2 separate regions of the Homo sapiens genome follow, and region 1 is linked to region 2. The links come from fine-mapping of genetic effects on gene expression. A gene starts in region 2. The other region holds a variant in brackets. All regions are shown on one strand. Distances are from middle to middle. Region 1 has its middle 21 kb from the start of MGST3. Region 2 holds the start of MGST3 (microsomal glutathione S-transferase 3).

The links. PIP is the estimated chance that this variant, and not a neighbour inherited with it, causes the effect.
Region 1: its variant is fine-mapped to the expression of MGST3 in activated naive CD4 T cells (Schmiedel 2018, PIP 0.95). The same link has a PIP of 0.9 or more in Th1 cells and regulatory T cells.

The regions. Positions count from the first base shown.
Region 1 is chr1:165,608,492-165,611,404 of GRCh38, reverse strand. No RefSeq gene overlaps it. Among named protein-coding and RNA genes, the nearest start is that of MGST3, 21 kb to the left of the region's middle. The variant C/TTC (reference allele first, on the strand shown) is at 1,318.
Region 2 is chr1:165,629,567-165,632,479 of GRCh38, reverse strand. MGST3 (microsomal glutathione S-transferase 3) reads right to left here and starts at 1,246. Exons shown (of 6, transcript NM_004528.4): 1 at 1,187-1,246. RefSeq lists enhancers at 572-741, 1,795-2,325 and a silencer at 1,172-1,411.

The DNA of each region.
Region 1 (2,913 bases), 21 kb after region 2:
ACGGGCATAGTCCCAGTTACCCGGGAGGGAGGCTGAGGCAGGAGAATCATCTGAGCCCAGAAGGTCGAGGATGCAATGAGCCAAGATTGGACCACTGCACTCTAGCCTGGGCAACAGAGCAAGACCCTGTCTCAAAAACAAAAAACAAGCAAACCAAGAAAACCACATACACAAAACAAATAAGGGCAATACAAGTATTAAATGTTCTATAAAGATGCTTTTAGAGTGCAGTGGGACTCCAAGCACTCTAGCAGCTCCCTCCTAATCTATGCATCTCCAACTCTCTCTCTAAAATTTTCATCCTTCAGGTGGTGAAAGTGCAAAGGTTGCAAAACCAGTTTTCAGGAACCTTGTTTCCAGGCTCTGCTTCAAATTACGGTGGTGGTTGGCACTTAGAATTTGTCATCTGAACAAAACAAAACAAAAACCAACCAAACAAAAAACTAGTAATGTTTATTGTCTCTGGAGAGGAAACTGAGTGGTGCAAAGACAGGAGTGAAAGAGGAAGCTTCCCACTTTTGTATGTCTTGAATTCTAAGCCTCTATTACCTCCCATAAATATAAATTTAAAAATATAGCCAAGAATTACCAAAAACATTTTCTGACATGTCAGTTTGAGGACTTCAGAACGACAGCACCAAGGGAGAGCTGAATTAAAAAAGAGTCTGGGTGCCTTGCAGGACTCCCGAGGAAAACACGCATCTTCCGGTACAAACACGTCCTGAGGTGAAAAGCCAGCTAGATGAAAGGAGCTCACACTATTTTCACGTGTATATTGAAGGTCCACGGGACGCCCCTTCTAAGAACAGACTTTAAAATTTGAAACTCTTCTCACCCAGCGACAGTATCTAGTTTTCATAACTAACATTTTTTACACCAGAGGTTGCAATGTAGACAAGCTGGGAAAGGTACAACTGGCTGTGTTTCAAGAAGAGCGGTCTGCAGTGTGGCAGGTCCACCCTGCTCTGAAGGCAATCCAGGCTGTTTCTTGCTCCAGGTCCCAACTTCGCAGTCATATATGTAATCAAGACTAATGAAGCTCAATTCGTGAAATCAGTGAGGGCTATGTTTTCCAAATGGAGGGCGGGCATTGTATCACAGTAAGAAATTGATTTCACGTTGCAAGCCAGTATATACATTCATAAAAACTCACACATTCATATATACATTGGAAATAATACTTCCTTTAAATAATAATTACTTAAAATAATAATACTTCCATTTTTCCAAAAAATAATACTTTCTTTAATCACATGAGATGGACTCAATTTTCTTTATTTTTTACTGTTATTATATATATATATATATATTTTTTTT[C/TTC]CTTTTCTTTTTTTTTTTTTTTGAGACAGGGTCTCATGCCATCACCCAGGCTGGAATGCAGTGGTGTGATCTTGGTTCACTGTAACCTCGACCTCCCAGGATCAAGGAATCCTCCCACCTCAGCTTCCCAAATAGCTGGGACTACAGAAAGGCACCATCACGCCTTGCTAATTTTGATATGGGGTCTCAAACTTCTGGGTGCCAGGGATCTGCCTCTCTCGGCCTCCCAAAGTGCTGGGATTACAGGCATAAACCTGGCCATATTTTTATATTTTTATGTTTATTTTTATTTTTTGAGACAGGATCTCAATCTTGTCCAGGTTGGAGTGCAATGGTGCAAACACGGCTCACTGCAGCCTTGACCTCTTGGGCTCAAGCAATCCTCCCACCTCAGCCTCCCTAGTAGCTGGAACTACAGGCGTGATTATTTTTTATTTTTTGAGACAGGGTCTTGCTCTGTTGCCCAGACTGGAGTGCAGTGGTGCATTCTTGGCTCACTGCAGACTCGACCTCCTTGGACTCAGGTGATCCTCCCACCTCAGCCTCCTGAGTAGGTGGGACTACAGGTGTGCACCACCACACCCAGCTAATTTTGTTTTATTTACTTTTTTATAGAGAGGAGGTCTCATTATGTTGCCCAGGGTGGTCTCAAACTCCTGGGCTCAAGCGATCCTCCCAACTCAGCGTCCTGAAGTGCTGGCTTGGGCCACAATGCCTGCCTGGCTCTCAATTTTCTCTTCAGTTCTTTCTGACTTGATTTTTTTTCAGCTTTATGAACTGGAAGGGTCGGATTGACAATTTAAAATTGCATATATTTAGGCTGTATGATGTGATGTTGTATGTATGTATGTATTGTGAAATGACTCCCACAATCAAGCCGATTAACATATCCCTCTCCTCACACAGTTACCATTTCTTTTTTGTGGTGAGGACACTTGAGATATACTCACCTAGCACAGTTCAAGTATGCAATACATTGTTATTAACTATAGTCACTACGCTATTCATTGAGTCTCCAGTACTTATTCATCGTATTTGATTTTATTTTTTGAAACAGGATCTCACTCTGTCACACAGGCAGGCGTGCAACCTCTCACTACAACCTCTCCTTCCTGGGCTCAACCAATCTTCCAGCCTCAGCCTCTCGAGTAGCTAGGAGTATAGGCATAAACCACTAGGCCTGGATAATTTTTATATTTTTTGTAGAGATGGGGTTTTGCTATGTTGCCCAGGCTGGTCTTGAACTCCTGAACTCAAAGCGATCTGTCCACCTCAGCCTCCTAAGCTGCCTATTTGATATTTTTTAATGCTGATAACAACCCACCAAATTTATTTTAGACCCATAGTTTGGAAAATCCTGAGCTAGACTACAAACATGTATACTGAGTCATGATATAAGAGGCATATTTTACAATGATCACTTTAAATTAAATTTGAAAAACAAATTACTAGGCCATATTATAAACGTTGAAATTTGCTTGTGTTGTCATTGTTAAAATCTCTTCTGTCAAGATCTCTTCTGGCTGGGCATAGTGGCTCATGCCTGTAATCTCAGCACTTTGGGAGGCCTAGATGGGTGGATCACCTGAAGGTCAG
Region 2 (2,913 bases):
TCTTGATCTGACTCAATGTGCTCTCTGAATTCACTGAAATAAAATATAGCCTGTAACTCTGACCAATAACCTGGGGTGCCTCCCAGAACTGCTGGCTCCAGGTGATCTACAGATTTCCCAAGAGAAGCGCTGCAGCTCCTACCCACCAGCAATCTAAAATCTGCAGCAATTCCGCAGGACCACACCTAGGCCCAACAGCACATACCTGCAGAGCCGGAAGCGCCTTCCCCTCCAGGGCATCTCCTGTCCCCAGGGAAGGAATTAAAGTTCTAACCCCTGCCTCTCCTTCTACCCATCCTAGTATCTGCTTTTCCTTTACCTCGTCTTCCACACTTACTTGCCCCCGACGCTATTATGTAGCTTGTAAACTCGTGACTCTCAAGGAAAGTATCAGCAGAAGCCACAACTTCGGGGAATGACTCACTAAGGAGTCTCCAGCGCCTTCCACCGCCCTGCAACTGCCCCACTACTGTAGCCCTACGGCTCCGTGCTGCCACCCCACATAAAGAAGGGGCATTTTCTGAAATCCAAGGAAGAACCTGAAGAGTCCCCCACCCGCCTAGAGGCGTCTCTTGCTCTAAGTCAGCGGTAGGAAATGACCACCTTCCCAGTACAAATGGACAAACGATTCTAAGAGGCAGGAGGAAAACAAACACAATTCCTTCAGAGGCTCTCCCGACCGTCCCTAGCAACACATCCCCACCGCAGCGGGTGCATTGCTCACAGGCCACTTCTGAAACCAGTGTTACTGATCAGGCCTGCACAACCACTCCCCCGGCAGTGTCCGGCTCGCCATCCTCTGCGCCGGAACAGCAGAGGGCAAGGTCGGGTGGTCTCCGGAAGGCAGAAAGGTGCCCCCAGACTGCAGAGCCCGGGGACAGCAGGAGAGGAAAGGAAGGAATGGAGGAAGGGTTGACCTTGAGAATTTTCCTGAGTTACACATAAATAGGTCGGGCCTCGCTTAGACGCTCCCAACCCACTCCACCAGGGAAAAGATGCAAGGCAAGGGGAGAGCAGAGAGGGTGGAAATTCAGATCGCTAATTTACTGATAAGGGTGGGGGGAGGTTAGAGACAGCGGGTCTCTATTCAGCTCGCATAGGCTGAAATATGGGAGTGCCCTGCGCAAAGGCTGAAGTGCCCCCGGCGGCCCGGTGCTCGTGGCTGCCCGCAGGTGCTAGCACTCACCTGGATCACCTTCGAACAGCTGGAGCAGAACAAAACTGCGCAGCGCGGTGTGGGTGCGGCGCCCTCGCCTGGGGCGGGGCTAGATGAGGCCAGAAGCAGGCCCCGCCCCAGCCGACCAGCGCGCGGCCACGCCCCCAAGGCGGGGCTCCTGGCGCTGGCGCGCGCTGTCTAAGTTGCCAACTCAGGGCCACTGGTTGGGAGGTGGAGGCCTAATTTTCTTCCTGCTCATGGTCGTCCAGCGATTTACTCCTCTCATTCTCAAAAACATATATCTACTCCCCCAGGTGCCTTCGTGGCCATCTTCCTAAACTGTCCCAGCCAGGTCATACCTCCCGGATTGGGTTTGCAGAACAGTGGGACGTGAATAATTTGTCCCCAGCAGAGCCACCGTAGCGGTTTTAGGCGCTCTGCTGTAAGGGCGAAGCACGGGCATGCAAGGCGCGTGCGCGAAAGTAGCCGCGCCTCAATCGATGTGTCCCTGAGGCGCGTAGCTGGGGCGTGGGCGGCGCTTGGTGTCCCAGGTTGCTACACTCCCGAAGTGAATGGATTTATCGCTGTTAGGGCCTTTTTGTTTAGGGCCTAACAAATATTGTTAGTTTTGCCGAGAGCTGGCGCCGAGCCCTGCCCTCGTGGTGGGCCGTACCCACGCCCCCTGAGCGCGGAGTCGCGTGGCTCCGGAGTTTTGTTTTTTTGAAAGGAGTCTCCCAATTGTCCGTGGAGTTTTTTTTGCGGCACATGGAGTCTCTGCCTTCGCGACCCAGACCTTTGATGTGAACACCTGCTCCCGTTACGCTCGGGTCCAGCGTCCGGGGCGGGGCTCGAGGCCGGGTGGAGGAGGGGTGGGGGCGGGGGTCTTGGTCTTGGGTGAGACCTGCAGATACGGTCGGGCTGAAGGAGTAGAACTGGCTTCTAAATGCCGGAAAATCCGAAGGAACTGACTGCAGAAGGCACGTTTCCAATTTTCGCGTGTTTTAAGTGCACCCTCCCGCCACCTCTCCTCTGGACATCCCTCATCCTTTTGAAGATTGCCACACCTGGGCCCCTCCTAGAGTCTCCTCTTTGGAGGATTCCTCACCTCCGAGAGAATGCTTAGGAACCCACCTGAATGATTCCAAGTTAAGGTGTGGAAAGGCAGAAATCTAGATTTTTGAAGGCTCTAGGTTATGTGTGTGTTTCTTTTTATTGGGTTGTCATATTTGCACATCTAGAGGTACTTTGAGAGCTCATTAAATCTTTACTGTTGCTGTTTCAGCAATTTCCAACCATTCTCATACTTTCTGTCATGTTGGGTTTCTGTCATGTTGGATGTAGAGAGGGCTTTGTTTTGCTTGAACATTGAAAGGAAGTAAGTTAGGGAGACAGTTTTGCATTATTGAGGCAAGTTTCTCCACTTGCTGGCTGTTCTACGTAAGAAGTCATTCCAAGGTGGTGGAAGGGATGATTCAAAAATCAGGAGCGGGGATGCACCTTGCACCCTCATTTTACACCGGAGACTGCAGTCTCAAAAAAAATTTGGCCTCTTCTTTGCCAGTTATCTCTGACCACAGACAAGTACTTAACCACTGAGGACCTTCTTTTAAAAATCTTATTACAAAAGCAGTATTCCTTTATATTAGAATTTTCGGAGATACAGAAAAGCCCACAAAAAAATTACATACACACACAATAGAATCATACTGTATATTCTGTTTTGTGGTCTGCTCTGTTCACTTCATAAAATGTAAACC